Linked DNA regions of Homo sapiens. Changing the gene in region 5 together with the main gene of any one other region gives a genetic interaction. Each region holds a gene or a part of one and is shown on either strand. Other genes may lie near its edges.

Evidence for each region.
Region 1: changes in RTF1 (region 5) and SEC22B together harm fitness more than expected from each alone (negative genetic interaction), as found in Homo sapiens cells (one large-scale study listed by BioGRID).
Region 2: changes in RTF1 (region 5) and EXOSC9 together harm fitness less than expected from each alone (positive genetic interaction), as found in Homo sapiens cells (one large-scale study listed by BioGRID).
Region 3: changes in RTF1 (region 5) and RUVBL1 together harm fitness less than expected from each alone (positive genetic interaction), as found in Homo sapiens cells (one large-scale study listed by BioGRID).
Region 4: changes in RTF1 (region 5) and MED12 together harm fitness less than expected from each alone (positive genetic interaction), as found in Homo sapiens cells (one large-scale study listed by BioGRID).
Region 6: changes in RTF1 (region 5) and DCTN2 together harm fitness more than expected from each alone (negative genetic interaction), as found in Homo sapiens cells (one large-scale study listed by BioGRID).

What each region holds. Positions count from the first base shown.
Region 1 is NC_000001.11:120,168,770-120,174,098, reverse strand, and holds part of SEC22B (vesicle-trafficking protein SEC22b), read left to right. Parts: intron 1-5,149; coding exon 5,150-5,259; intron 5,260-5,329. UniProt on the Homo sapiens protein: SNARE involved in targeting and fusion of ER-derived transport vesicles with the Golgi complex as well as Golgi-derived retrograde transport vesicles with the ER.
Region 2 is NC_000004.12:121,813,730-121,818,658, forward strand, and holds the end of EXOSC9 (exosome complex component RRP45), read left to right. Parts: intron 1-136; coding exon 137-318; intron 319-1,620; coding exon of another isoform or gene 1,621-1,643; exon of another isoform or gene 1,644-1,919; intron 1,920-2,414; coding exon of another isoform or gene 2,415-2,465; intron 2,466-2,639; coding exon 2,640-2,718; exon of another isoform or gene 2,719-3,042; coding exon 3,043-3,127; 3' UTR 3,128-3,292; downstream 3,293-4,929. Other genes in the region: CCNA2 (cyclin-A2), read right to left, coding at 3,909-3,957, 4,315-4,448. UniProt on the Homo sapiens protein: Non-catalytic component of the RNA exosome complex which has 3'->5' exoribonuclease activity and participates in a multitude of cellular RNA processing and degradation events.
Region 3 is NC_000003.12:128,112,574-128,117,902, forward strand, and holds part of RUVBL1 (ruvB-like 1), read right to left. Parts: intron 448-5,329; coding exon 315-447; intron 1-314. UniProt on the Homo sapiens protein: Possesses single-stranded DNA-stimulated ATPase and ATP-dependent DNA helicase (3' to 5') activity; hexamerization is thought to be critical for ATP hydrolysis and adjacent subunits in the ring-like structure contribute to the ATPase activity.
Region 4 is NC_000023.11:71,135,092-71,140,420, forward strand, and holds part of MED12 (mediator of RNA polymerase II transcription subunit 12), read left to right. Parts: coding exon 1-162; intron 163-1,189; coding exon 1,190-1,564; intron 1,565-1,787; coding exon 1,788-1,938; intron 1,939-2,095; coding exon 2,096-2,292; coding exon of another isoform or gene 2,293-2,301; intron 2,302-2,466; coding exon 2,467-2,544; coding exon of another isoform or gene 2,545-2,634; coding exon 2,635-2,852; intron 2,853-5,329. UniProt on the Homo sapiens protein: Component of the Mediator complex, a coactivator involved in the regulated transcription of nearly all RNA polymerase II-dependent genes.
Region 5 is NC_000015.10:41,471,854-41,477,182, reverse strand, and holds part of RTF1 (RNA polymerase-associated protein RTF1 homolog), read right to left. Parts: intron 2,564-5,329; coding exon 2,481-2,563; intron 1,659-2,480; coding exon 1,571-1,658; intron 1,472-1,570; coding exon 1,364-1,471; intron 738-1,363; coding exon 660-737; intron 19-659; coding exon 1-18. UniProt on the Homo sapiens protein: Component of the PAF1 complex (PAF1C) which has multiple functions during transcription by RNA polymerase II and is implicated in regulation of development and maintenance of embryonic stem cell pluripotency.
Region 6 is NC_000012.12:57,535,912-57,541,240, reverse strand, and holds part of DCTN2 (dynactin subunit 2), read left to right. Parts: intron 1-2,716; coding exon of another isoform or gene 2,717-2,722; intron 2,723-2,893; exon of another isoform or gene 2,894-2,988; intron 2,989-5,329. UniProt on the Homo sapiens protein: Part of the dynactin complex that activates the molecular motor dynein for ultra-processive transport along microtubules. In the dynactin soulder domain, binds the ACTR1A filament and acts as a molecular ruler to determine the length.

The DNA.
Region 1 (5,329 bases), on a different chromosome or scaffold from region 5:
TGACATTTGGGGATGGATAATTATTTGTTCTTGGGGACTGTTCTGTATATTGTGTAGGAGGTCCAGCAATATTCCTGGCCTCTACCCTCTAGATGCCAGTAGTACCACTACCCTTCCCCACTTTGTTTGTTTGTATGACGACAAAAATATTTCTAGACATTGCTAAATGTCTCATGGGGGCAAAATCACCCCAATTGAGACCCAGTGGTTTTTATTAAGTTTTTGTCGACTCAGACAAAAACTTAATAACCACTGTACTTTAGTGCCTAACCACTGTACTTTACTGCCTTGTTCTAAGGCCTTTTAATGATGTCTTACCTCTTAGGAGTCCAGGAATAACTTTTTAATAAACAGATATCTCAACCAAACAGTTTTATATTTAATCACCTTAATTGTCCAGGCCAGATAATTCAATGTATTTTCATTTTTGTATGTTTTTGTTTTCTTATCAGTGTACTTTCAGTATTTACACTGATAATAGATATCATATTTTAGGTATTTACTAGGTGCCTGTACAAGCTGCCATATTACCGAAGATGGACAGTTATTCAGATAATACAATAGAGAGTAAAATTTACAAAATAATGTAGACAGAGTATTTTATACAGGGTGTTTCCTCTGTGTTTAACTGAAAATTTAGACTTAGGGCAGGAAGAGAGATGAGCTTTTCTTCTCAAATGTGGACTCCCTAACTGATACCCTGTTTATCTTTTTTCCTCATTCCTTTTATGGCATGTTTCTCCTTTTAGGATTTTTGCAATTTCTTTATCTACCTTTCTGTTCTGCCTCAAAATTATTGTATTTTCTTTCATTTTCCTCTGGCATCGTGAAGGGCAGTCCAGACTTGAAGAAAGTGTTAGATCTCACCAAATAGGCAGCAGGAAGCTCCAAGAAAGCAGATAGATAACATGTTATACAGTTAAATTGTCTCACGCTCCCAATCACTGAGGGTTGATTAATCCACTTACTGTAACTGCTTTTAGAGGAAAGTGGTTGGTTCTTGGTGCTGCTGGTCTTTGACCAGCTGAGTTCAGTGGGTATTGATACCCACTGAACTCAGCTATGAAAATGATAAAGAGCTATGAAGGCAAAAGTTGTTATTGATACAACTAGTTGTTCAGCAGTCTTAGGTGACAGCAACGAAAAGTATTGTGGTTGTGTGTCTAGTTACTACCTTCTATCTTTTGTAATATATAGATCCAAATCCTACATTTGCTGTTGGATAACCTCAAATTTGTTTCACAGTTTTTCCAGTTATTCTGATCCACTGCATTATTGGATTACTAATAGATATCTCATAATTATATCATATACAAATTTCATTAATCTTTTCTAGATGAAGTAGAAAACACAATGAGGATATCTAAATATTTTTAGGTGGACTGGCTAACTGTGGGCCCTTTGTGACTTTGATCTTGAAAGCAAACTAAAGGTCAGTATGTAAAACAGTGGTTAGGTTGTTTTGTGAGATCTAGATCAGAGCTGCCCCATGGTTTCTTGAGCATTTCCAATGAGTTAGAATTACATAGTAAGACTTCACCTAAAAGGTGGATCTACTATTGAAACAATTTCAATTATAGAGTTAGGGTAGCATAATGCTTAGGAGTAGGGGCTCCAGGGCCAGATTGCCTGCATTCAGATCCTAGTTCCTCCCTTTTTAGCTTAGAGGCTAAAAAGTTTGACTTCTCAAGTAAAAAATTGACATAATAATTCTAATCACCTCATGAAGAATAAACGAGTTAAATAATGTAAAGTGTTCAGAACAGTGGCTGGCAGAAAGTGAACACTTAATAATTTCATTTGATCATTTCTGAAGAATCTTTTCTAATTCCATCTTGCCTTTCTTTTTTTTTTTTTTGAGATGGAGTCTCACTCTGTTGCCCAGGCTAGAGTGCAGTGGTGTGATCTCAGCTTACTGCAACCTCCGGTCCCCAGGTTCAAACGATTCTCCTGCTTCAGCCTCCCGAGTAGCTGGGATTACAGGCACCTGCAACCCTACCCGGCTAATTTTTGTATTTTTAGTTGAGATGGGGTTTCAGCATCTTGGCCAGTCTGATCTTGAACTCCTGACCTCATGATCCACCTGCCTTGGCCTCGCAAAGTACTGGGATTACAGGCGTGAACCCCCATACCCAGCCTCATCTTGCCTTTCTTAAAGGTTCACAGATCAGAATTGCACATAATCGATACACTGGATGCAAATATGTAATGAATGAATGATTTTTCACATTACAAAATTAATTTGTGCATATTGTAGAAAGTTCAGTAAATACATAAAAGCAAAATGACCAAAATGTTAACAGTGTTTATTAACTATAATCTGTACTCAAATTATATCCATTTTGGTGGATGACCTTAAACATATGTATGTGTGTATAACATTAAATAATAGGTAATACCGTAAGACTGTTTCACCTAATTTTTTCCACTTAACAGTGTTTAATGAATATTTTCTCATATCATTAAACTCTATACAGCATTGTTTTAATGGCTGCATAGTATTCCATTGTATGAATATGCCAGAAAGATTATTATTTAACCATGAAGATTGTGCTAGCATTGTGTTCTCGAGGATGGTAATGCTAACTGAACCAGCATGGTAAGGTGTTGGTTGGCATACCATAATCCCTATAAATACATCCCCAGTGTTGTATATTGGCAGTCTTTACATTGCTGTTTGCAAATTCCTGAAATTGCAGAATGCTTTTGGCCAGTTTCTTATAGTTGATACAGTTGTTAGTCTTTTTCTCAGGTTACAGTAATGTTTACAGTGCCTCTTGTAAAGTCAAAGGATTTGTACCAATCTGAGTGGCAATTTTTTCCATGTTTCTTCAACTAGTCCTTTTAAGATTCTCACCTGCCTTTAGCAAAGAACATATATTTAACACCTGTGGTTGCAGTTATGTAAAAAATACCGATATCACAGCCCCACCTCCGAGATGCTGACTTAATTGGTTTGGTGGTGGAGACTGGGCATAAGTAGTTTTGTTTTTGAGATTTCCCCAAATGATTCTATTGTGAAGCCAAGGTTGAAAATCACCGATCTATGTTGATATTATTTCTTGGCACTTGAGCCAAGAAATAATAAAAATATTTCTTTTTTTTATTAAAGAATTTTAAATTAAATTAAATTTAATAAATTAATTTTATTAAATTAAAGAAATTTGCATGCTTTTTATCTACTCTTGTGGGTTCAGATCTCTTCAGAATGGCACTGGGGAAACAAAAAGATTGGTAAGTACCATTCAAATTTAGGAAAATAGAATATTGTGCACTAGTTCTTATTGGCTAAAAGCATATGACAGTATTCACTCTTACTGGCTGGCCATATATTAGTAGTACTGTTTAATATGATAATTTTGATATAATTATTATAAAGTACTGTTTAATATATAAAACTGTACATACATACAGACATACATATGTTAATATAGAACTATTTCTCAAATATATAACAAATATATGTCAATAAAACAAATAATTGCCATAACAGTGGTATTAAACAAGATAAATCTACAAACTAATACCTCAACTGGACTCTGCCTATCTCCCCTGGTTCACCTCATGCTTATTCACCTTCTTATTCTTATTGAAATTTCCAGTTCACCATTTTTACATATAGCTTAGAATCTTATTATCCTGTAATTGTACATTTGCTGATCTGCCACTTTATCATTTTATTGTTGCTTCCTTGTTTTTATTATCAGCTTAGCAGTACACTATCTACAATTTTAAGATATCACTTTGTACTTTATCAAAGTTAGACCTCAGATCCTGGGAGACCCTAGCATAAATACTTTTCTACTTAAATATTTAGTTATTAAACATCTGCCAAAGGGAGGCTATTCTTTCTATGTAAAATAAATAATTCCAAAATAGGATTATTTCTTTGCATCACATGGCAGTGTCCTAGTCTGGTTTACTATACAAAATACCATAAATTGGGTGGCTTATAAATGACAGAAATTGATTTTTCTAGTTCTGCAAGGTGAAGATCAAGCACCAGCAGATTTGGTGACTATTGAGGGCCTATTCCTGGTTCATAGATGTCACCTTCTGGCTGTTTCCTCACATGGTGGATGGAGCAAGCTAGCCCTCTGGGGTCTCTTTTATAAAGGTACTAATCACATTCATGAGGGCTCTACCCTCATGACTTAATCACCTCCCAAAGGTCCCACTTCTTAATACCATCACTTTGGGGGGTTAGGATTTCAACATGAATTTTGTGGGGGATACCAGCAAACATTCAGACTATAGCTGGGTAGCTGGCAGAAAGCTCCCCTACCCCACATGTGGATGGAAAAACAATGTCTATTTGCTTCCCATTCTTCAGGCACTTCCTTTCCCTGTTGGATCTAGTAGATTGGAGATGCATGGTTTTCTTCTTTTGAAATGACACTGCTGGTTTTTCCAGTAGATTTGCCCCCTCTTTTTAACAAAAATAATTGTAAAAGCAGTTAGAAATTGTTCAGGAAAATATTACCTGTAATTATAACATGTGAATGCTATTATTTTCATTTTTGTCTGCATATATCCCTCGATATTCAAACTTTTGCTGTCCAAACTTGGGAACCAAATAGATTTCTTCAGTAAAGGGTATCTGACATCCTAATCTTTGTCTCTACCCTTGGTCATTTTTATGTAATTGCAGTCAAAGTGTTCGTAATAATTTGCAGTCACTAGTACACACATTTAGTTTTGTTTAAATGCTAAAAACTGTAACACTTGTGGAAGGTTCTGCTGGATATTCCAACATAAAAATGAAATTCACCAATCTTGTTCCTAGGATATTCCCCTGAGTATAGCACATGCTGTGTAGTTCTGTGCCAATAACTGCAAATGAAATGGGTTAGGAGGAGAGTACTGTCCTAATAGTGGAAAGAACACTGGATTGAAAGTTAAGAGTGCTTAAGTGTATTTGAGGTATATGCTTTTGCTTCTTAGCAAATAACTAATGCGATCATCTTGAAGAAGTAGGGGTTAGGTCTTCCTCTGTACTCTGAAAGTAGGTTGTCTTTCCTCCGTTAAAATGAATCTTACTTACCTGTAAATGAAGGACCTCATTCAGAGTGTCCTCATAATATGATGCTTCTCACTAATTGATACAGCATTTTGTGGAAAATTCTTAAATGAAGATGTCTTCTTTCAGTCTGGCCGGGACCTTCAACAATATCAGAGTCAGGCTAAGCAACTCTTTCGAAAGTTGAATGAACAGTCCCCTACCAGATGTACCTTGGAAGCAGGAGCCATGACTTTTCAGTGAGTGTAATCTTGATTTCTTTATGATCATTTAAGTGAAATACAGTAACAGAATGCCTGATAAAAAATA
Region 2 (4,929 bases), on a different chromosome or scaffold from region 5:
CTATATTAAGTTTTTTTTCCCCTAGGAACTTGGGGCACACTTGAATCAATCTTACAAGAAGAAAACTTTCATTCTCATCTTCAACAGTTCATCAAATAGCAATATTTTTGTTACTCAGTTTTCTTAACTTGTTAAGTGTTTCTACACCTGTGCTATGGACTCCTGGAACTGCCCAAATTGGAGAGGGAGTAGAAAACTCCTGGGGTGATCTTGAAGACTCTGAGAAGGAAGATGATGAAGGCGGTGGTGATCAAGCTATCATTCTTGATGGTATAAAAATGGACACTGGAGTAGAAGTCTCTGATATTGGAAGCCAAGGTAGGTGACACTTTATGGCACACTTACTATATATTACATACATATAGTATTACCGTATAGTTATATATATAATGCATAAAATGTGTGTATATTTATATTATCACTGTATATAGTAATATATAGCATATTAGCTATATAGAGATGTATAGTGGATAAATAACATACAGGATACTATATAGAGAGAATATAGATATGTAGTTATATATAGGGATGTAAGTATTGCATTTTTAGAGGGGCTAAATATTGTGATTTAAATTTCAACTAAATTATTGTGGCTAGCTGCAATACTAATGCTACTTTCTAAAAGAATATGCATATCTTTGTAGAGTAGTGGAACACTGGCATAAATGATAGTGATATTTTTAATTAAAAAAATTTTGTGTGTGTGTATGTATGTGGGTGGGTTTTAAGGGAATGAGTTTCTTGAAGATCTTATTCCTCCCTGCTGTCTTTTTTTTTGTAGTTTCTAGACTGAAACAAAAAGCCCATCCCATATCATAACATATAATACTGCCTAAATAAAACTTTCTATGATGATAGAAACATTAAGTATCTACACTGGTATAGCAGCCACTAGCCCCACATGGCTAGTGAACACTTGAAATGTGGCTTGTGTTACTGAGAACTGAATTTTAAATTTTACTTAATACAAAATTAAGCAGCCACATGTGGCTAGTGGCTACCATGCTAGACATCGCAGTATTAGAACATAAAAAAATTCTATAAGTAACTAGAATACTGGTAGTCCTAGACGTTTCTTGCATTCTGAAAGCCATAGAACTGAAGTTGTTATGTATGGTTATTTCTACTTTTTAAAAAAAGCAAATTCTTGCTGGTCTATATAATAGAATGACTTATTTTCTTACGTGGTAAGAACAGAAATCCTACAAGGAACTGGGAGCTAGGCTGGCAGGGAAAATTGAAGGTGATGTGTTTAATAGGAATGTAATGCAAATACTTCTGTTTTCAAAGAGAGAAATTATTGCTTATGAACATTACTGGAGCCTGGGCTTTTTGTTTTTTTACTTAAGTAAATAGGTAAGGAAAAAATTTCCCATTGATTGGGACCCTTACTCAAATTTCCCAGTGGTTACTTCTATTTGGTATTATTCTTCCAGAACTTGTTCCAGGTATTTATTTACTCTCTGTGCAGTGATGTAAGCTAATGCTGCATATACTTGTATAGCATTGAATATAACTAGTTGGTTTAACAATTCTCTTATTGTTGAAGATGTAAGTTGTTTCCATTTTCTCACTGTTAATATCCTTGCACTTGCATATACCTCTTATATGTTTGTTTAGTGTATTCTTCTAACAGTGAATAATATTTTCAACTGAATATAATGAAGGTGGACCTAAGCATTGGAAAAATGGAGCAGGTACAGCCTTCCTAAAGCATGTGAACAAAGGGAGAAACTAATTGAAAACTAAAAATACAAATAATTGATATGGGTTAATTCACATTTTATGTATATCATTAACTAATAAGCAGGAGAAAAATGGGCAAAATACATGGAGCAGTTCTCAAAGTATACAATGGCCAGTAATATTTTTCATGGTCAGCCCTGACAGTAATACAAATAAAATCCAAAGAAAAATGACATGGCATTTTTTGTTACTGTATTTTGGGCAGTATTAAAAACACCAGCAATGCCAAAGGTATATGGGAAATGGGTTCTTTTATTTCTTGGAATGTAAACTGGAACTATTTCTGGAGGAATAGAGTAGCACAAACAATTCAGTTGTCTCTACAAAAGATGCTATATACATTTCCCCCTAGCTTTTCTATTATGACATGTACCAAATTGTCACACCATTCAAGCACCTGTAGGAAATAAGAGTTTAAAGAAACAAATGTTACAGATGAGTTCTAGAGTGCTCTAAGAAGCTGATTTAAAGAAAAGATTAAGCCTCCACCTAGAGTTTTATTTTTATTTTTTGGGATGGAGTCTTGCTCTGTCACCCAGACTGGAGTGCAGTGGCACTGCAACCTCCACCTCCATGGGTTCAAGCGATTCTCATGCCTCAGCCTCGAGTAGCTGGGCCTACAAGCACATGCCACCACGCCTGGCTAATTTTTCTATTATTTTTAATAGAGCTGGGGTTTCACCATGTTGGCCAGACTGGACTCGAGTTCCTGACCTCAGGTAATCCACCTGCCTCAGCCTACCAAAATGTGGGTATTAAAAGTGTGAGCCACCACGCCCAGCCCCAGAAATAAGAGTTTAGAACGTCTGATAGAAATAAATTCATGTAGAAATAAATTTTGCAAGAGATTGCTTAACTTTTTTTTTTTTTTTTAAATTAATAAAAAAACAAAGATGCTCCCATAATACTCTCAGATAGTGAAGAAGAAGAAATGATCATTTTGGAACCAGACAAGAATCCAAAGAAAATAAGGTAACAAATTTCTGGTTTATTTCAAATGTATACATATACTCAACACTTATAGAGGTTTGCTCTCTGGTTTTACTCTCATCTTGCCACATGACTATAAACAAAAAGACATCCCTTTTTCATTAGAGATCCATCTGTTCTGTGATTTTTTTACCTTGTGATTTATAAAAATTAGGACCTAAATCTATAATATAAACTTCTTGGATGCCAGTCTTACTCATAGCTGACACATTTTAGATCCTACTGGAAAACTAAGAAATGCCTCTTATTTCAATAATCCAAAACTTAACATACTCTTAGTAAATTCTTACTTTGCTTTATTCACAGAACACAGACCACCAGTGCAAAACAAGAAAAAGCACCAAGTAAAAAGCCAGTGAAAAGAAGAAAAAAGAAGAGAGCTGCCAATTAAAGCTAACAGTTGTATATCTGTATATATAACTATTAAAAGGGATATTTATTCCATTCTGAGAACCCTGGGTATTTTTTATTCACAAATCCATTATAAAATCTAGCAGGATTTTAAAAATAGTTTTTTGTTTTTAATGTGCTTTAAAATAATAAACCTTCTGGAGCATTTCTCGTCTGTTAATTTGCATATAAGCTTCCCACCCTCTTCCACTCCCAACCTCTGTTGAGTTTACCTCGCAAAACCTAAACAAACAGGTTTTACAAAGAGCGAAAAAGTCTGGGGAATCTCTACTGTATCTATCTCTGAATACTGTATTCAGATATGCTTAGATTAGATTATGCCCAAGTCAGCAAATTGATCCAGTTGCTTAGGAAAATGAATGTCAGAATTTGAGGGTCTGTTTTCCTAAACCTACTTTAATTTTAGAGGAAGGCTTTTCACTTCCCATTATATAGTAAACCAAGTAAACTTCTTTACTAAGCAAAATCCTGAAGAAGTTAAATTTGACTTGCAAAGTTTTCCAAATCAATTTATTATCCTGACAGCTGGCATCATTAATACTTTAACAAAACCACTTAAAATTAGCCAAATATCTAAGACAGATACATATACAAAAGATATACAAATTAAAACCATTTAAAAAGTAATAGATACCATAATTTGTACTTGGCCACAACTTCTGTATTCAGAAATGATTGTAAAATTAAAACCTAAGTTAAAAACTGTACACCATATACTTTGAGTGATTTACATCTTAGAAAACAAAGGCAGTCTTTCATTGTTACAGATTTAGTGTCTCTGGTGGGTTGAGGAGAGAAACACCATGATACCTGTAAGTAGGGAAAAAAAAAGCATTTTTAGTAAACACTCACTGGGTAAAGGAGATCATGGAATAATGTTTGTACTCATGTATTGGGAACTAAAAAATGCTATTTCTGTCTGACCGACTTGATGGTTTTAGAAACACTGTCTGGTCCCTGAAACACACATGCATGCCCCCTTCCTTCTCTCTTCTCCCCCAGACCCAGGGCAGAAAGCATGAACTACAACCTTCTTCAAACACATAACCAATTTAGAGAACAGCTTCTCAAGGAGGCTATGGCAGATTCATGAATAAGGTTAAAATGTCAAAGATCTCTGAACCATAATCTAGAAAAGTAAGCTTCAATATCCAAGTTAATTCTTACTTTGAATTTTTGTACTTTTCTCTTATTGACTGTTGTGCATGCTGTGGTGCTTTGAGGTAGGTCTGGTGAAGGTCCATGAGACAAGGCTTAAGACTTTCCAGGGTATATCCAGTCTTTCGTATTAATGATTCAGGCTACAGAGAAGGGAATAGAGAACCCCTGAGTTTTGCTTTTAGTAACACACCAAACACAGTAAATAGTTGGCATTAAGCTTATGTTAAATTCCAGTACTAATCTTTAACTTTTCCAACTACTAGTTTTCTCAGGCCATTATTCCATCCCTCGATCCATTTTCTACTACTTTCCCTGCCAGCAACAGGTCAGATGCTTTTAAAAAAGCTCACCTTTCAATCCAAGTTACAACTAAGCTTACTACCTAACAAACACTGTTCAACAGGTAACATGCCTTAAACAGTATATAATCATCCCTCAGTGTACATGAGGGATTGGTTCCAGGACCCTTCCCAAATATACCCAAATCTGTACATATTCAAGTCCTGCAGTCACCCTTCCATATATATGGGTTGTGAATCCCCTGAATACTGTAGTTTCAGTCCACATTTGATTGGAAAAAAATCCATGTGTAAGTGGACTCACACAGTTCAAACCTGTGTT
Region 3 (5,329 bases), on a different chromosome or scaffold from region 5:
GTCATCTCTAATGGCAAAATAAGACTTCCAGGAAAATATGACTCATTAAAAAAACACTTTTAGACACATCTATTTATTGCATGAAGAAGCGCAGGCTCACAGCTAGGGTCCATAGTTGCTCCAATTGCTAACGCACTTCAATGAGAAAAACTGGGGTTTTGTTTTATTTGAAAAATAATGCACTACTAAGTGCCAAAAGAAAAACAGCAGTGCCACGAATACCAGTCATAAAGGCATCTTCACCACAAAGAGGCTTCGGTGCACAGGCTTCAGGAAGTGAGACCAACTCCTCCCACAAATGTGACACTACTTACCAATGGCCCTGCGGAAGTTCTCCATCAGCACCTCTGTCTTCTTGATCTCAGTTGAGTAAACTTCACTCCCCACCATTGGGCAGAAGGGGACCTTACTACCCAGCTCCTGAGCAATAGCCAGAGCCAGAGCTGTCTACAAAAGAAAGCAACGGAAACACAGTTCACAGTCCTGAAAACATGACAGTTCAGAAACACATGCTACAGAACCACCAGGAACTAGGAACAGCTGAACATCTAGTCCTACCATTTAGCATGTTTCACACAATAAATGTTTGATGACTTTTGTGGACAGTCAATTTAAATCATAAATGGCATCTCTTATCTTCCCTATAATTACAAGTTATCATTCACTCAGACTTACCCAGTGCAGGCCCAACTCCAAATGCCTCACATGATCCTCACAACCAGCCTATGAAATAGACACTAGTATTCTCCCCATTTTACACATGAGAAACTGAGAGACATTAAGTAATGCAACGTAAGTACCATAATCTAGAAAATGGCAGCGCAGATTTAATCTCTGGCAGCAGGACTCCAAAGATCATGTTATCATAATTAGAAGAGTCTACTCTTCAGTATCCACAGGGATACCAAAATCCATGGATGTTCAAGTCCTGGTATAAAATGGCAGGGTATTTGCATATAACCTATGCACATCCTCCTGTTACTTTAAATCATCTCTAGATTACATACAATACCTAATATAAATGCTATGTAAATAGTTATTATATTGTATTTTTAAGTATGTATTATTTTTGTTATTGTATTTTTATTTTTTATTGTTTTTTTCCTGAGTATTTTTGATTTGTGGTTGGCAGAATCCACATACGTGGAACCCACAGATAGGAAGGGCCAACTTTACAGTCATCCAAAATTGTTCTCTCAATATCAATATATGGCTCTGACCTAATTGCTCCGAATACACCACTGGATCTTTGAGATACCTGCTTTCTCTTTTTACAAATACAGGAAAACACCAATCTACAACCCATCAGAAATAATGAAGGAATGAATGAATGGATTGTTCATTTTATGTTATGTAGCCCACAAAGAGTGAAGAAGGATACCTCAAGTAGGATTTTGAAGCTATGAGTTGGTCTTAACAAGTTACACTTAAACACGCCCTGTGGTAAACTACAAATTGATTTTTGACAAGATAATTACAGCTGGCAAATGCTAAACAGAACCAGACTTCACAGGTGTACGGTCAAATGTCAAGTATGGCAAGCAAATGCTTTAAAGTTGGTACAGAACTGGGCAATGCCATGGCCTCTAAATGCCATTTTCATCTTTCCTCAACTCTGAAACAGGAGCACGAGTAAGGCCAGCTCCCCAGGTATATGGGCTAAGACTGAAAACAAGCTTGTTACTGAAGAACAAAGTGAAACTGAGACGGTGTCTTAAAATTAACAGTCAAGGTTCCTCTCAGATTTTCTTTTCTATGCCCTTTTGGTGATAGTTTTGAGGTAGTAAAATCTGGTAGAGAATCAGTGTATAGCACAGTATAAAATGCACTAGCCAGGAACAGAAAGATTAGTGCTGGTTCTGCCACTAATTTTCAGTGTGACCTTGGGCACTCAGCAAATCTCAGGTGCCCGATTTCCTCATCTGTCAAATGAAAGTACTAAAGTGCCATGCTAGATCACAAGTGGCAAACTCGTTGCTCACAGCCTGGTTCTGTTTGGCCTGCAGTCTCATGGTGACCTTCAGCAAGGCCGAGCACCTGGGGCTCAAGGCAGACACGCCACAGTGCACCCAGCCACTTCCCTCATCCCCGTTGCCTGCCTCATTAGGCATCTGCACTTGTGAGCTCAAGGCTGACACCTTGAAAACTGGTATTCTTCTAAGAGCAAAGGAAAAAAATCTCTGGAACATGAAAGGGCACAATGAGAGGAGCAGCACTCTAACAGCAGACTCCCCGTGGGGCCACAGGCTGGACAGGACCACCCCTTCCCAGTTACTCCTTTCTCTTCCTTGTATCTCTGCCAGCCCCAATTCCCTACCCTCAGTTTTGAACTTCAAAGACAGTGACCACATCCAATTCAATGGCACTCTCCCTCCCTTTAACTAATACAGAAGAGATGAACATACTTCCATTAAAATATGATAAATACTTGGTTAAAAAAAAAAAGCTTCATGTGTGTCTCGTTTCCTCCATTTAAAGACTTCCAGAGGGAAAGTATATGATATGGCTACTATTCCTACACCTACTACAGAGTGCTGCATAGACCTCATCGAATCTCCCCAACTAGCCTATGACCTTGATCATCTAGTTTGTATTTTATAGATTAAGAAACAAACTCAAAAGTTACCAACACACCCAAGGTAAAACCGCAAGCAGCAGCACCAGGATGCAAACCCCAATCTCCAAAGCCATTTTTTTTTGTACTCACCCCATGTGAGTGACAAGTGGCACAAAAAAGAGGTTGTTGCCAAAAGAAGGTTGAAGAAATCTCTATTTTTCAATCTCATCTGAATATCTCCTTCTTCTAAAACCCAAACCCATTATTAACAGTGTGAGGTCCTCAAGAGTGGAAATGCATATGAACCATGCATTTGCATCTCTAAAATAAGCAGTATTTCTGCCTGTCACCCAGGTAAGTTGCCTAAACTTTGGGACCCTGCAGCAAACCATTAAGCAGAAGTCACCAAATTCCTTCATACACATTGGAAGGGAGTGGACAAACTTATAAGGTAATACCACAGTGCTGAGCACTTCTCATATTTCCTGGGAGGAAAGCAATACAATATCACCAAAAAAAATGAAAGACATATGCTTCTAGCAATATGGCACACTGGGTCCACTGAAAACCTCTCCTCTTACAAAACACCTAGAATTGAATAAATAATAACATTCAGAGCAGTAAACTATTTGCCTTGAAAGTTCAGAGACTGTAGATACAGGAAAGCTCAGCAAGGTATAGCACTTAAGATAGAAACCCCTGAATAAAACCGGGACTGGGCACGGTGGCTCAAGCCTGCAATCCCAGCACTTTGGGAGGCCGAGGCAGGTGGATTGCTTGAGCCCAGGAGTTCAAGACCAGCCTGGGCAAAATGGCGATACCCCATCTCTACGAAAACTACAAAAATTAGCCAAAGCGTGGTGGTGTGCACCTGTAGTCCCAGCTACTCAGGAGGCTGAGGTGGGAGGACCACCTGAACCCAAGAGGTAGAGACTGCAGTGAGCCGAGATCACTGCACTCCAGCCTGGGTAACAGACCACTGCACTCCAGCCTGGGCGACAGACTGAAACTGTCTCAAAAAACAAACAAACAAACAAAAACATTACAATTAAAAAAAAAACATAAAAGAGGACTCTTGAAGGGCCACACATGAGTAAAAAAGGTGGGCCATAACAAAATACATCTGGGGGCCAGGCACAGTGGCTCACGCCTGTAATCCCAGCACTTTGGGAAGCCAAGGCAGGTGGATCACCTAAAGTCAGGAGTTCGAGACCAGCCTGACCAACATGATGAAACCCCATCTCCACTAAAAATACAAAAATTAGCCAGGCACCTGTAATCCCAGCTACCCAGGAGGCTGAGGCAGGAGAATCGTTTGAACCTGGGAGGCAGAGATTGCAGTGAGCCAAGATCACGCCACTGTACTCCACCCTGGGCAAGAGAGCGAGACTTCATCTCAAAAAAAAAAAAAAAAGACATTATAACTTGTAACAATTTATGCAGTGTGTAATCTTTGATTGCATTTTGATATTCTGGTGTTTTTTAAAAAGCCAAAAACTGAAACAACTTGGAAAGATGTTTTCTGATTTCTATCACCTATATTTTCTTTTCATTAAAACAATTTAACTTCGTTGTCTTTGAAAGCACATTTGTTAACTGCTCATGGAATCATATGATGAGCTGCCAGGCTCCCTCATCTTTGTGATTTCTCTACCACAGTGGATATGGTTACCTACTCCTTTCTTTAAAGGTTCTCCTTTCTTGGTTCCTGAGACACCATTCTCTCCCTGGCTCTGCTGCTCATTTTTTAAAAATTAATTAATTTAATTTTTAATTGACAAAAATTGGGGGAATATAATAGCATTAGCAAGGTGGGTCTGATGATGGCACCGTGGTCATGTAGGAAGACATCCTTACAACTTACTGTCAAGTGGTTCAGAAATAAACTAGAGAAAAAGCAAATGTCACAAAATATTTATAACTGGCTATCTAGGTATAGGGTATAGAGGGGCTCATCACACTATTCTTTCAAGTTTTTTGTAGGTTCCAAACTTTTCAAAATGAAAAGGAAAAAAATATTCAATAGATTGGATTAATCAGTCACTTAATCATAGCTTAAGAGACAATTAGACTGGAACAAAGATCTAAAAGAAATTACCCATAATTTAGCAGAGTCAAAAAGATAACAAATATGAGAGGCTAAAAGACAAAGAGGACAAAACGAGAAGCTCTAGCCCAGGGTTTCTCAGCTTGACTCCATGACGTTTGTGGCCAGATAATTCCTTATTATGGAAACTGCTCTGTGCACTACAGGATGTTTAGTAGCATCCCTGGCCTCCACCCACTAGATGCCAGTAGCACCCCCAACCAAGTCGTGAGAACCAAAAATGTCTCCAGACGTTGTCAAAGTCCCCTGCAAGGGCAAAACTGCCCCAGGTTGAAAACCACTGCAATCTTAACCTCATCTCAGTGGAGTTCCAGAAGGAAAGAACAAAGAGAATGGGGAAAGGCAATAGCTGAAGAGATTAACGCTGACAGTTTTTTTGTTTTTTTTTTTTTTGAGACGTAGTCTTGCTCTGTCACCCAGGCTAGAGTGCAATGGCATGATCTTGGCTCACTGATACCTCTGCCTCCCAGGTTCAAGCGATTCTCCTAAGGCTGACAATTTTCCAGAATTGAGCAGAGACATAATACTCAGATTCAAGAAGCACAATTAGCATTAAGCATGATAAACAAAAATTAATCCACTCTGACATATAATAGTGAAACACCAAACCCAAAAATATCTCAAAAACATGCAGAAAGAAGACTCAAAACCCTCAAAATTAGACT
Region 4 (5,329 bases), on a different chromosome or scaffold from region 5:
AAGGAGTTGGGGGAGCGCCAGTCAGACAGTCTGGAAAAGGTTCGCCAGCTGCTGCCACTGCCCAAGCAGACCCGAGATGTCATCACGTGTGAGCCACAGGGCTCCCTTATCGATACCAAGGGCAACAAGATTGCTGGCTTCGATTCCATCTTCAAGAAGGAGGCATGTTCCATTGTCTGCCCGTGTCCCTTGCCTTTTTTCCCCTTTGGGCAAGAACTTTGCCTGCATCAGCTTTGTAGCTCCAACAGACTCATCAGATTCAGGAGCCCATCAGTCTCTGCCGGTGAACACCATCTCTGGGGTTTTGAGCAAATCACTTAACTTTCCTTACATTTCATCTCCATCTTTGAAGTCCCACCCTCTTTCCTTCACCCTGCCCTCACCTTTTAACATACCACCCATTTTTCAATACCCTACCCTCCTCTTTCCTCTGCTCCACCTGCCCCATGTCCTACCCCACCCATCTATCTGGCCGACAGCCTGTATCTCTTTTATTTCTGTGTTTCCCTACACCCACCCATCTCTGCACACTTTTATCTTTTCCCTCTCTGTCAGTTGCGGTATTTGTTGAGTAACCATAATTATTGTGTATAGTTTAAAACCCAAAGTCTAACTCCTTCATATATACATTCTCTTCATCTGTCTTCCTAGTCCATCTGTCTCTTTTCCTCCGTCTCTGTCTCTCTCCCTGTCTGACTCGTTTGCCTTTCTTTGTCTCTCCACCTTTTTGTCTCTCTCTTCCTGTTTCTTTCTCTCTCTGACTCTTTCTCGGCCTGCCTAAAGGCAGAGTCTCTCCCTGCCTTCCTCTCTCTCTTTCTCTGCCTTCCTTTTTCTGTCTTCCTCTGAATGTCAATCCCTCTCCCTCCCCGCTCCCTCTCTGGCTTTCTCCCCAACCCCTTTCTCTCCCGATCTTCTCTCCCCACACGCCCCCCGCCCCGTTAGTTCATCTCCTCTCCTGGTCTGGGCTGGCTTCATCTTGTGCCTCCACACCTCTCCCTGTGCCCCACCCTTCACTCTCTCCCCGCATAACTCTCTTCCGCATGTATATGTGTATCCATGTCTGTCTGTCTGCTTCTTACCATCTCTCCTGAATCTGCCTATGACTTTCTTTCTACCCATTCCTACAAATGCTTGCAGTCTTCTGTTTTCTAAGTCCCAACAGCTTATTGTTTTTCATTTTCTGGAGCAGGGTCTACAGGTTTCCACCAAACAGAAGATCTCGCCCTGGGATCTTTTTGAGGGGTTGAAGCCGTCAGCACCACTCTCTTGGGGCTGGTTTGGAACAGTCCGAGTGGACCGGCGAGTGGCTCGAGGAGAGGAGCAGCAGCGGTTGCTGCTCTACCACACACACCTGAGGCCCCGGCCCCGCGCCTATTACCTGGAGCCACTGCCACTGCCCCCAGAAGATGAGGAGCCGCCTGCTCCTACCCTGCTAGAGCCTGAGAAAAAGGCTCCAGAGCCCCCCAAAACTGACAAACCGGGGGCTGCTCCACCCAGTACTGAGGAACGCAAGAAGAAGTCCACCAAGGGCAAGAAACGCAGCCAGCCAGCTACCAAGACAGAGGTGAGCGCCTCCCCCGTGACAGTTCTCCCACAGCCTCTCACTTCATGACGCTCCGGTTTCTGGTTTGTGGGAGGGGTGGGGGCGCATAAGGAAGGGGTGCCATTAGAATCATAATAAAAATTAACCATATACGAATTCAGCTCCTCTTTACCTCATTCTCCCCCAGCTCCCCGACCCCATTCAGCTACAACCCACTCACCCTCTTCCTCTGCCACTCACACAGGACTATGGAATGGGCCCGGGTCGGAGCGGCCCTTATGGTGTGACAGTGCCTCCGGACCTCCTGCACCACCCAAACCCTGGTTCTATAACACACCTTAACTACAGGCAAGGCTCCATAGGCCTGTACACCCAGAACCAGCCACTACCTGCAGGTGAGTGCCAGCCACTAGGAATGCTGGAGGGACCTACCTGTACACTCCCCCTGCCCAAAGGATGATGCCATTCCCCTGAGGAGCTATGGATGTCAAGGACACTGAGCAAGAGACAGAGGGATGAGGAGCCTAGAGGTCAGCCCACTCTCCTTTTCAGGTGGCCCTCGTGTGGACCCATACCGTCCTGTGCGCTTACCAATGCAGAAGCTGCCCACCCGACCAACTTACCCTGGAGTGCTGCCCACAACCATGACTGGCGTCATGGGTTTAGAACCCTCCTCTTATAAGACCTCTGTGTACCGGCAGCAGCAACCTGCGGTGCCCCAAGGACAGCGCCTTCGCCAACAGCTCCAGGCAAAGATAGTGAGAGGGGCAGTAGGGAGGGCTGTCAGGGAGAGGGGCTTTTGAGGGTCACAGGACGGAGGAGACACTTGGGATCTTCACAAGGACACTCAGGGTGGGAGACACAAGAGATGAGATGGCAGCAAGCATTTCCTGAGTTTGAGTTGTTCTCTTTTCTCCCTTTAGCAGAGTCAGGGCATGTTGGGACAGTCATCTGTCCATCAGATGACTCCCAGCTCTTCCTACGGTTTGCAGACTTCCCAGGTAAGAGCCTGGGATTGTGAGACTAGGGGGATGAGGCAAGCTGCTCTGCATACTCTCGGCCCTGATTCCCTCTCTCCTTCTTCCCTCCAGGGCTATACTCCTTATGTTTCTCATGTGGGATTGCAGCAACACACAGGCCCTGCAGGTACCATGGTGCCCCCCAGCTACTCCAGCCAGCCTTACCAGAGCACCCACCCTTCTACCAATCCTACTCTTGTAGATCCTACCCGCCACCTGCAACAGCGGCCCAGTGGCTATGTGCACCAGCAGGCCCCCACCTATGGACATGGACTGACCTCCACTCAAAGGTACCCAAAGTAGTGGTGAGCTAGGAAGAGATGCAGAGGTATAAGGGAGCATTTGACTTGGGAAAGCCTGTGCCTGAAAGTGGTGGGACTGGTCAGAACTTTCGGAGACATCAAGAATACTTATCTGGCCACATAGCCCATAACCACAGAAGTCTCGAGCTGGAAGGGACCCTGGAGACCAATAGTTTCATGACTACTTCCTTAACAGTTCTTTGAGGCCCAGAGAGGGGAAATTGTTTATCTGACTCAAGGAAAAATCTGGGCTGGGTGTGGTAGCTCACACTGGTAGTCCCAGCACTTGGGGGCCCAAGGTGGGAGAATCAGTTGATTCCAGGAATTCGAGGCCAGCCTGGGCAACATAGGGAGATCCCATCTCTACAAAAAAAATACATATTTTTTTGAAACAGAGTCGCACTCCATTTGCCCAGGCTGGAGTGTCGTGGCATGATCATGGCTCACTGCAGCCTCGACCTCTGAGGCTCAGGTGATCCTCCTACCTCAGCCTCCCAAGTAGCTAGAACTACAGGCACACACCACCACGCCCAGCTAATTTTTTGGATTTTTAGTTGAGATGGGGTTTCGCCATGTTGCCCAGGCTGGTCTTGAACTGAGCCACCACACCTGGCCAAAAAAAAATTTTTTTTTAATTAGACAGGCGTGTTGGTGCATGCCTGTAGTCCCAGCTACTCAGGAGGCTGAGGTGGGAAGATTGCTTGAGCTTGGGAGTTTGAGGCTGCAGTGAGCTGTAATCGCACAATGAGCCGAGATTGTGCCACAGCACTCCAGTGGTGACAGAGTGAGACCCTGTCTCAAAAAAAAAAGAAGAAAGAAAAGAAAAAGAAAAAAATATCTGGAGTTCATAGATGAACTACATGATAAGGAGTCGTAAAGCCAGTACCGGCTTTGAATACCAGGTTAAATACCAGGATGGACAAATGAATGAATCCTCCCACCATGGTTAACGTTAGTCAAGCCTTAGTTGAGGCCTTGTAACCATGTATAGAGACTCTGAAGCTTAGGATTAAGAACACTGGGGAGTGGGCTAACTGCCCATTGTGTGGCCAGCACTATACCAGGACTGGGTGAGGTGAAGAAAGATAGCAAAAAAAACCCCCACGATACATAGTTCCTCACTACAAAGAATCTTTACTATAGCTGGGGAGATGAGACTTATAGAAGAATATTGAGAGAACACTCTGAGCAAAGATATAATCAGGTATGCAGTTGTATGCTATGAGGTAAAATGTGGATTGAGAAAAAGTACGTGGTAATATCTGTGGGCCTGACTCATCAGAGAATGTTTCATGAAGGAGGTCAGACTTGAGTTGGCCTCTGAAGAATAGCTGTGATTGGGATTTGTGGAGAAGAGGAAAAGAAAGGGCATTCCAGGTAGAGGATGTAACGTGAACAAAGACATGGGGACCAGAATGAGGATGGTGCCTGGGGAGAAGGGCCTGGATGGAGTGTAAAATCTGTGCTGGGGAAGTCACTGGGGCTAGGCTAGGAGGGGGCAGGCTGAGAGATGGCCTTGAATGCTCAGCCGAAGAATTGAGACGCAGTCCCAGAAAGGGCTCTTTTGATCAGAAGAGTGATAGGAGGAGTTGGGTATGTTGCAAGGTTCCTTGGAATGAATGGATAGGATGTGTACTGGAAGGTGCAAGAAGAAGACTTCAGGCCAGGCACGGTGGCTCATGCCTGTAATCCCAGTACTTTGGGAGGCCCAGGCAGGCAGATCACCTAAGATCAGGAGTTCGAGACCAGCCTGGTCAACATGGTGAAATCCCGTCTCTACTAAAAATACAAAAATTATCTGGGTGTGGTGGCATGTGCCTGTAATCCCAGCTACTTGGGGGGCTGAGGCAAGAGAATCACTTGAACCTGAGAGGTGGAGGTTGCAGTGAGCCGAGATCGCATCATTGCACTCCAGCCTGGGCAACAGAGTGAGACTCTGTCTCAAAAAAAAAAGAAGACTTGAGACGGGGAGCCTGGCCAGTAGACTCTTGAAGTGATATACACATGTGGTAGAACAACTTGAAATGTTATTTGGGAACAACAACAGCAACAGCAAAAAACCTCAATGAGTGTTTATAGAATGCCTATCTTGTGCTAAGACTATTTTTTTCTTTTCTTTTCTTTCTTTTTTTTTTTTTTTTTGAGATGGAGTCTCGCTCTGTCATCCAGGCTGGAGTGCAGTGGTGCAATCTTGGCTCACTGCAACTTCCACCTCCCAGGTTCAAGCAATTCTCCTGCCTCAGCCTCCTGAGTAGCTGGGATTACAGGCATCCACTACCACGCTCAGCTATTTTTTTTTGTATTTTTGCTAGAGATGGGGTTTCACCATGTTGCCAGGCTGGTCTAGAACTCCTGACCTCAAGTGATCCACCCACCTTAGCCTCCCAAAGTGCTGGGATTACAGGTGTGAGCCACCGCACCCAGCCCTATTTTTCATTTTTGTAACAGAAAAATAGCTAATGCAG
Region 5 (5,329 bases):
CAGGTCCTCAGCCATGGCCTACACATAGAGAGATGTGTGAGTTCGTTCTTGGCTACATACAACTGACTCCATATCAAGTATCCCCTTACTTCCAGCACAGGCAAAGATATCTCATGTGGTGAGCAAAGGACAGGAGATGTGGAAGAATACTGTAGAAGTACTTTACAAATACAAGATATAATTTATATTATAGTAGTGCACAGTACAGTGGGGAACACCTTCCCATACAGCTACCTGGCTGTGGGTCCCTGGTGGCAGTAGAACCCCAGGCCTCACAGGGTGGCTAAACCACCATAACAAGGCCCACCCCAACCCAGTGTGAAGAATGGAAAATCACCAGCCACAGGTGGCCTTGACAGTGTCATCTGTCTGTTCAGACTCAGTGTTAAATACCACCCCAGGGTCTATTTTATTACAAAGGAAACTGAAGTGACTAGAAAGTAAGAAGACTGGCACACACGCAGAAGATGAGTTTGAATTTAGGGAATGGAAAATGGCCAAGGAACGTTGCCCAGGTGCCAAGAACACACTGTGTTGCTTATAATCGAGCCCAGAATTTTCTCCCAATCCTACCACCACTAACTTGGCAGAGGATGAACAAGTTTGATTTCCACATCTCCTTACAGGATGAGGAAAGAGGCTCGAGTACAACTCCTTACCTTTTCCTTCAGTAGCTGAGTCTTCTTCATAGCGTAGTTGGGTGGAGCTTTTCTGAACCTTTCTTTCTCTTTTACAATCTGTACCAGAGAGGAGATACCAGCAGTGAGGTATTCCTAAGCTATTTTTGTAGACAGGCTAAGTGAGCCCATTTTGGATGCAAACAGCTAGTTACAAAGGGGCTGCTCTTCCTACAGCAGTGTCATGCCCCAGAGAGAGAGAGAGCGGGTTCATTCCAAGGGATACTATGCTGCTTCCTGGGTCACGGAGATTCTTCTGGGACAGGCTGAAGGAACATGCACCAAGAAACAGCAGCCCAAGGGCCTGGTAGTGTAAGGCTAGCCACTGTCCAAGAGAACAGAGATCAAATAATTTTACCAAGATGTTTTAGAAAAGGAAAACTCTTGAAGGATCAAGCCTAGCAGAATACAGACCCCTGAACCCTAAATACACTTTAGTGTATGTAGCCTCATTTGTTGTCTCATCTGAACTCTGAATACACTTCAGTCTATGTTAGCCTCATCCGGACATGAGAATGTATAGAAAAAAGCTTGATGAACTATAAATAATCAGGTAGTAATATTAGTATTCCCTCATTTTCATGCATAGCTAAAAATGTCAAGATATAGGGAAATAAAAGAGAATCATGTTCTCTCAACACTGGTTCTTGATGAACCTCCGGGTTCTGGGGCACCAGTTTTCTTACCTCTTCAATGTCCTGATCATTGAATTTATAATTAAGAGCTTCTTTAATAGATAATTCCTTTTTATTGATTTCATCTAGAGTGGGCAACTGCATGCCAGCAGAGAACATCTGGATCAAAAACACGATACGAGATTATTAGTAAGGGATTTTGGAAAGATATTTTCTCAACGTGCACGAACAACTGCTAGGTAATCTCTAGCCACGTACCGCTTCTTTCCACTTCATAAACTCACTTTCGGTGAATTCTTGGTTTGAGACAAACTCTAAACGGAACACGCGTTGGTCATTGCCATGCCTACATAAAAGAGAGACAGCATCTCCAAGAAATGTGCATGTTGACTGTAGTACAAGCAAAGCAACCTTACCAGACTATGTACCACCTATATATACCTATTGCAGTGGTTCTCAATCCTAGCTACCCTATAAAATCATCCCAGGCTGTTTTAATGAGCTGCCAAGATTGAGATCCCAAAGCTAGCACTGGAAACCAAATGGGCTTGGTCAGTGCTTCAAAAGTCAATTTACAATAAAATCCATTACAGTCAACATCAACAATATGCAACAGAGCCTGGGACAGGGTTACATGCCTGTGGTCACAGCTCCTCAGGAGACTGAGGTGGGAGGATCACCTGAGCCCAGGAGTTCCAAGCTGCAGTGCACTATGATGGCACCTAGAGCAGTGCCTGGCACACTGTACATTCGGTAAATATTTGCTGAGTGAATGACACTTTCATTTTACTGAAGAGGAAATGAAGTCCATAAAAATGATCTTTCTTGTCACAGATGAGGTTATGACATAGAGCCAGAACCAGAAGCAAGCCTCTTGGACATGCTTGCCAAGGAAATGCCAGCGAGGCTCTGGGAGGGTCTCTCATAACCACACATTTCCTTTCTCTGTGTCCTACCCCTTCATATATTTGGTTCCCTCTAGAGGAGAGAATATCCTACCTTCCCTATAGACAAAGATGGAATACAAGTCTCCCTCCAAGTGTACCTTGTGGGGATTGCATACATAGCGTTCATGGTAACAAGGAACATCACACAGAGAGAACAGCAGCCCCCAAAGCCAGTGCCTGTTTGAAGTGGAAGCAGAAGCTACCCCAGAAGTGCCTCCTACCGTAGTTGCAGCCCTTTGTTTGTTCTGGTGCCACCTAGTTGGTAAACTTTGGCAGTTTCCACAACACCCGTAATCTCAGCGACCTAAGTGAGAGGACAGAGACGCCAGTCAAAACCAGACTCTTCCGGAGCTTTCCACAACACTCTTCCTTTGCGTCTCTCTACCTGAACGCAGACAACTGATAGAGTGCTGAGTAGAGTCCACAGCTGCCAGGGGTTCTGAGAAAGGTTTCTCAGGTTTAGAATCCAGATGGCCAAGCACAGGGAGCCTTGTGCCCAGGAGGAGAAAGTGCCAGCAGAAGAGGAGCCCGATGGGGCCCACTGGAAGCTTTTCCTCCAACTAATTCTAACTTACAAGGGATGTATTTGGGATTTCACCAGTTGATTTTTATCAACCAAATGTGAAGACCATGTAGGTCAGTTTCTGTTGCCAAGCATTTCAGGATATGGCATGGCTGCAGGTCCTCATACAAGGGGATAACACACATAAAAACCAGACAAGAATAAAACAAAACAAAAACAATCCAGGCTGGGCGCCGAGGTTCAGGCCTGTAATTCCAGCACTTTGGGAGGCTGAGGTAGGAGGATTACTTGAAGCCAGGAATTTGAGACCAACCTCAGCAACACAGAGAGACCCAGTCTCTCTTTTTTTTTGTTTTTTGTTTTTGAGACAAAGTCTTGCTCTGTCGCCCAGGCTGGAGTGCAATGGCATGATTTTGGCTCACTGCAACCTCTGCCTCCCTGGTTCAAGTGATTCTCCTGCCTCAGCCGCCCAAGTAGCCGGGACTACAGGCACATGCCACCACGCCAAGCTAATTTTTTGTATTTTTAGTAGAGAGGGGTTTCACCATGTTAGCCAGGATGGTCTCGATCTCCTGACCTCGTGATCCACCTGCCTCCCAAAGTACTGGGATTACAGGCGTGAGCCACTGCGCCCAGCCGAGACCCAGTCTCTACAAAAAAGAAAAAAAAAATTAGTTGGGCATAGTGGTGTGCACCTACAGTCCTAGCTACTCAAGAGGCTGTTGTAGGAGGATCGTTTGAGTCCAGGAGTTCAAGGTTGCAATGAGCTCTGATCACACCGCTGCATGCTAGCCTGGGCAACAGGGCGAGATCCTATCTCAAACAGGCTGGGCACAGTGTCTCATACCTGCAAACCTAGCACTTTCGAAAACCGAGGCAGGAAGATGGCTTGAGTCCAGGAGTTCCGGATTAGCCTGGGCAACATGGTTAAGACACTGTCTCAAAAAAAAAAAAAAAACCCAACACCTGGGCCGGGCGTGGTGGCTCACACCTGTAATCCCAGCATTTTGGGAGGCCAAGGAAGGCAGATCACGAAGTCAGGAGATCGAGACCATCCTGGCTAACAAGGTGAAACCCCGTCTCTACTAAAAATACAAAAAATTAGCTGGCATGGTGGTGGGCGCCTGTAGTCCCAGCTACTCGGGAGGCTGAGGCAGGAGAATGGCGTGAACCCAGGAGTGGGAGCTTGCAGTAAGCCAAGATCGCGCCACTGCACTCCAGCCTGGATGACAGGGCGAGACTCCGTCTCAAAAAAACAAAACAAAACAAAACAAAAAACCAACACCAAGCACTTTAGGAGGCTGAGGCCAGAACATCACTTGAGGCCCGGAGTTTGAGACCAGCATAAGAAACAGAGAGAGGCTGTTGCTACAAAAATTTTTTTTTAAATCCCAAAGTGAGGCCGGGTGCGGTGGCTCACGCCTGTAATCCCAGCACTTTGGGAGGCCGAGGCGGGCGGATCACGAGGTTAGGAGATCAAGACCATCCTGGCTAACACGGTGAAACCCCATCTCCACTAAAAATACAAAAAATTAACCAGGCGTGGTTGCGGGCGCCTGTAGTCCCAGCTACTGGGGAGGCTGAGACAGGAGAATGGCGTGAACCTGGGAGCCAGAGTTTGCAGTGAGCCGAGATCGTGCCACTGAACTCCAGCCTGGGCCACATAGCGAGACTCCGTCTAAAAAAAAAAAAAAAGAGACTCAGTCTAAAAAAAAATCAGCCAGGCGTGGTGGCGCATGCCTGTAGTCCCAGCTACTTGGAGGCTGAGGCATGAGAATCGCTTGAACCCAGGAGGCAGAGGCTGCAGTGAGCCAAGAGCGTGCCACTGCACTCCAGCCTGGGCAACGGGGTAAGACTCTGTCTCCAAAAATAAAAAACAAAAAATTAAAAATAAGGCCGGGCTCAGTGGCTCATGTCAATAATCCCAGCACTTTGGGAGGCCGAGACAGGTGGATCACCTGAGGTCAGGAGTTCAAGACCAGCCTGGCCAACATGGTGAAACCCCATCTCTACTAAAAATACAAACAGTAGCCAGGCACGGTGGCGGGTGCCTGTAACACTAGCTACTCGGGAGGCTGAGGCAGGGGAATTACTTGAACCCAGGAGGCGGAGGTTGCAGTGAGCCAAGATCGTGCCATTGCACTCCAGCCTGGGCGACAAAAGCGAAACTCTGTCTGAAAAAAAAAAACAACAAATAAATAAAAATAAAAATAGGCCAGGTGCGGTGGCTCACGCCAGCACTTTGGGAGGCTGAGGCAGGTGGATCACAAGGTCAAGAGTTCAAGACCAGCCTCGCCAACATGGTGAAACCCCGTCTCTACTAAAAATACAAAAATTAGCCAGGTGTGGTGGCATGCGCCTGTAGTCCCAGCTACTTGGGAGGCTGAGGCGGGAGAATCACTTGAACCCGGGAGGCGGAGGTTGCAGTGAGCCAAGACCACGCCATTGCACTCCAGCCTGGGTGACAGAATGAGACTCCGTCTCAAAAAATAAAAATAAAAAAATAATAATAATGGTAAAATAAAATATAAATAAATAAATAAATAA
Region 6 (5,329 bases), on a different chromosome or scaffold from region 5:
CACTGAGGGGCCTGCTGGCCTTATGTTTAAAGATCATTAATCAAGGGTTAGAAACAGCTATGATCCATGAATCATTGTCTCTTCCCCTTGTGAGGTCTGCAGAGTAAAACTGTCCAGTGGAGGATGGGATAGAAGCATGGAGGCTTTAAATGTTTTTGAACATGAGGCATTTAGGGGCTGGAGTTAGAAGGCAGTTTCCTTTCTCCTCCTCAGACTAAGATCAAATGAAGATTTTTTTATGGAATGACTTTTAGCTATTCTAGACAAGGATAGAAAACAAAAGGGATGACAGCCACAGTCCTCAGTTCTTGGCTGTATGTGGATTATCTCTGGGAAAAACTCATTTTAATATTCCCCTATGCTAGGTCTTTAGAGAAATGTAAATGGGATGAGAAGGAGGTTTATATGCAATTGTAAGATAACTTGGATTATTTGTGCTTTTGTGAGTCTTTCTGTTTCTGCACCCCTCCTTTTGAAATGGATGGATGGTCAGCAATATATTGATCCATCCCGGACAGTTTTACTCTACAGCTCTGTCCATCTTCCTTGTCATCATGGTTTTGAAGTACCCTGGCTGCAGTGTTGGCGTACAGCCTGAATAGGCTCAGAGAGTAACAGTGGCCACTTTCCCTGTCTGATTTAGAACCTCAGATCTTGCCCTCTGAGGCACAGCCACTTAGCCAAACAGCCCTGGGGGGTCTGGGAGTCCCTTAGTGAAAGAGACTGGGAGTCACGTACTAGGTAAGCTGGCACCCGGGGCCAGGGCACTTGAAATCTTCCAATCAAGGTGACTAGTACTACTCCAGGTTATGCAGGAATCATGCCTAAAATCTCATCAACCTTCAACCCACCCATAGGACAGACCTGGAGGTGGTATATACTATCTGCAAACTAATATACCACTTTTCCTTTTATTTGATTTTCTGTCCTCCCTATTCTGCCCAATCCGCATGGTTTGAAATTGAGCTTATGGCCCATTGTCTTCTTTCTCTCCTTGAGTTTCTCCCAAGCTGGTTTTAGCTTGGTGGGACAAATCAGAGAAAGGTATAGTGTGTGTACTTCTCCTTTGTGTTTGCATGTTTGCACTTATGGGTGCTTACACCCACTCTATGCAGAGACATCCCAGCCTCGACCACAGGATCTGGAGCCACCTCTACCCTGAGCTGAAAGAGGAATTTTTTTTTTTTTTTTGAGACAGTCTCACTCTGTCACCCAGGCTGGAGTGCAGTGGCATGATCTCAGCTCACTGCAACCTCCGCCTGCCGGGTTCAACTGCAACCTCCACCTCCCGGGTTCAAATGATTCTCCTGCCTCAGCCTCCCGAGTAGCTGGGATTACAGGCGTCCACCACCATGCCTGGCTAATTTTGTATTTTTAGTAGAGATGGGGTTTCACCATGGTGGCCAGGCTGGTCTCGAACTCCTGACCTCAAGTGATCCACCCACCTCGCCCTCCCAAAGTGCTGGGATTACAGATGTGAGACACCGTGCCTGGTGGAAAGAGGAATCTTGGCTGGGACCCTAGCATCGTCTAGGGAACAGAGAGGTTGTGATTAAGAGGTATCTGGATGAAATCTTGGTGAAAGGAAGCACTTGTTTTTAATCCCACCATGGTTTTTCATATGCATACAACCATCCTCAACCATCTGCCCATCAGCAGAGCTCCTAGAAAGGCAGGACATACCACTGGATATCCCCTTCTGGCAGTTCTAAACCAGCCTTGCCCGGAAGTGGGAGCCTTATCTATGTGGCCCAGACTCAAATAAGGCCTCTTGGAAATACTCTCACCCTTCCCCTTTGTTTACCCTCCAACCCCTGTGAATCTTGTGAACAGAGGGTTGAAGAAACATGTTCTGCACATGTGCTAGTACCTGTGAATCTTGATGTCCCCTGGACCCTCTGTGTAAGTACATCATGGCAGAATTGCTCTAGATCCTTCGGAGCTGCAGGGTGAGTTACCAGCCACTCAAGGTGGAGGCAAACATGCCAGGCTGCACAAGGGACCAGGAGCAGCTCTGCCTCTTCCCTTGCAGGAGGAAATGAGAACGGGGCTATACTTAGGTACTTCATCATTCCTTTAACTCACCATCTGTACCTGACATATTTTGTTTTGTCTCACCTAAAGTCATATCAGACTTCCTACCTGATCACTCTCATTGTGACTGATTCTGCCATCCAAATGTCTAATTTTTCACAGCTAGAGAAACTAAGAGATAGGAAGACAAGGGCCATGAACTAAGAAGGGGAACTCCTCTCCTGAGAATTATTGACCCTCTATCAGCTACAAGTCTAAGAATTTCTAACTTCTGCTTCATCTTCTACCATTTCTAATAGCTTCCCCACCACCTCAGCCTTCTCTCCCCAGTTTCTTATTCCATGCCACTGGCTGGTAACATCTAACTCCTAGTTTTCAGATGATCCTAAACTGCTGCTGTTAATGGCAAAGCTTCATGACATCCTCACCACCAGAGGGAAAAGGGTCTCATGCTCTTCTTTCTCTTGGGGTATATGGTGACCCCAGCTGAAATTTCTTGGCCCCTAAATTTCGCTAGGCTCCCCTGGGGCCCTGTGGTGCAGTGTGTTGGAAGACTGTCATGTAGTGCATGTGACAATTTGCTAATAACAATTTTGTCTTTTTTTTCCCTCCCTCATCCCCATTCCCCCACTCCCTTTCCTTTTAACTCTTTTGATTTTCTCACCTCTGGGGAAACCACAAGGAGCTGGTAAGAAGCCTGACCTTTCATCTGCTTTTTAACGGGGTGTGCTATGATGAGCAGTTGTTTCTCTGTCCTTTAGACTCTACTAAATCTTTCATTCATCTATTCAGTCCCACACCCAGCCTTTTCCTATCTCACAAGTCACTGTAATTATACTGCCCCCAACTCATGCCCCAGATCTTCAAGACACTGCTGGAGTAGGTGCTACTGGAGGACTAGAGTGTGCTCCCGGGCCACAGCCTTGGAGAGGCTCCAGAGGATGCCAGCGCCAGGTAGCCCAACTGGCCCAGGACACTCTCCCACAGCAGGAATGAAAATGCTCTCTGTCCCTGTGACTGTCCAGAACCTCTGAGACTCACCGTCTATGTGTTGACCCTCTTCTACTCCCCGCTTTCCCTACTTAGGAACGTAAATAAGAAAGTAGGTTCCATCTGCATAGTGCCCGCCCATAATAAGGGCTTAACAAATGGTAGCTATGATTAATTTTTTTCCTGGGTCTGTAGGTTATGCCTCCCATTCCTCTTTTTTAAGAGGATTAAACAAAAGAGGATGGGTGGGATTGGCCTGGATTGGGGCTTTCACAGGGAGAAGTGGCATATTCCTGAGTATGAACTTCAGAGAAGATGGTTGTCTATCCTTAGCCTGAGCCCTTCCCAGTTGATAAGAGGCCAGAGATCACACAGCTATTAGATGGGTGGGTGTTCTGGCCGTAACATTTCAGAACAGGTTAAAGAGATAATCATTTGGGACTCAAATGTCTCTCCCCCCGGGCACTTGCATATGGGACATTGAGTCCTTTTGTTTTCCCTTGATCTATAGCTCTTACCCCTCTGCCCAGTAATTCCCTGAGGAAGAGGTAAAGATCAAAGTTGATACTTTGTCCTTTCCTTCCTTCTTCCCTTATTTTTAAAGCTGTCACCCACACTGATTCCTGCTCTAATAGCAGAGCAGAGATGAAGGAAGGAGCTTCCTTCTATCTGCTTTTCTTTCTCAATGATGTCCCACCATGTCCCCCTCACACCCTCTCCCCACATACCTACACACAGGCAGAGATTCTCAGTCCTGGCTGTAGGTTAGAATCACCTGGATATCTGGCCCTACCCCAGAATAATTCATTAGAATCTCTAGAAGTGGGCCCAGGCCTTTTTTTTTTTTTTTTTTTCTTTTCTCTCTCTCTCTTTTTCTTTTTTTGAGACAGGGTCTCACTCTGTTGCCCAGGCTGGAGTGCAGTGGCATGATCTCTGCTCACTGCATCCTCCACCTGCCAGGCTCAAGTGACCCTTCCACCTCAGCCTCCTGAGTAGCTGGGACCACAGGCACGTGCCACAATACCCAGCTATTTTATATTTTTTGTAGAGTTGGGGTTTCCCTATGTTGCCCAGGCTGGTCTTGAACTCCTGAGATCCACCCGCCTTGGCCGAACTTTGGGAGGCCGAGGCGGGTGGATCACTTGGAATTAGGATCCTCCCAAAGTGCTGGGACTACAGACAGGCTTGAGCCACCATTGCCCGGCTGTCTATTTAAAAAAAAAAAAAAATTATAAGTGATTCTAACATGCAGCCTGGGGTGAGAACCATTGTTCTAGGTGAAAGAAGGAAGGCTCATTTTGCCTTCCTCCCATAGAAGGTAGAGATGTCATCCCCAACAGAAAAGGACTCCTGGGTCTCCCTCCTACTTCCATCAGTACTCTGTTGGGAGCTGTCAGGCTTCTGACAATTGAAAAAGGGACATGCAGTCAGGAGTGCTTGGTGCAGTCTTGGTGTTGTCACTGGAATCTGAACAGCATGTAGATATCTAGTAAGGAGGGAACCTCTCTGCTTCAGTTTCTAGGGTGAAGTCTCTTTCACCGCCTACTTGTGTCCCCTGTTTTTGGAAGAGCTTCAGTGCTTAAAGCATAGCAGAGGAGTCAGGGAGAAAAATCAGGTGCTGCAGCGTCTCTGAAGAGATGCTGGTTTATCTCCATTTCAGAGCTTACATGTGGCTCTTGCCCATGGATACTCTTGGCAAGCAGATATTGCCTATGTTTGTTGCTTCTAAGATGTCCCATAAAGATAATCCAGTAAGCCCTTGCCCCTTCTCCCTGTCCCTGAGTTCGCTGGCCTCATGGCAGCCTGGAAATCAGGCTTCTGGTCAGGCCCTCTGTCGGCCTTCTTTTTGTACTAAGAGCTTGTGTCTTACCTTCAACAGGTTTAAAGTCCTAATATTCACACTCAGTGTTAGTGGCCTGATTATCTGCCTTCCCTCCTCTTTCCTTCTAGCAAGGATGGGAGGTTAGCATTAAAATGGACTTGCTCAGCGGGCAAGATTTACTTTTGGGAGGGGGAGGTTAAAAGAGGTCAGGTTGGTTTCTTGCCTTGAGTGCATGGCGTGTGCCAGACAACTGGGAGGGGTAGCATGGGGGGATGGGAAGGCTTATGTACAGAGAGGGTGGGGAGGTTATGCTCCCTCTGCTCCCAGTTGAATGAGGGTGTTAATATTTATACAACTGAGGCTCCAAATTTACCAGGAAGCTTCAGTTTCCTAGGTTAAGCCTGGGTAGGCGCCTTGGAATAGAGCCACCCTTCTTTCCCCTTGGACAAGTAGGGCCCAGTCACCTAATGGTTTGGGGATTTT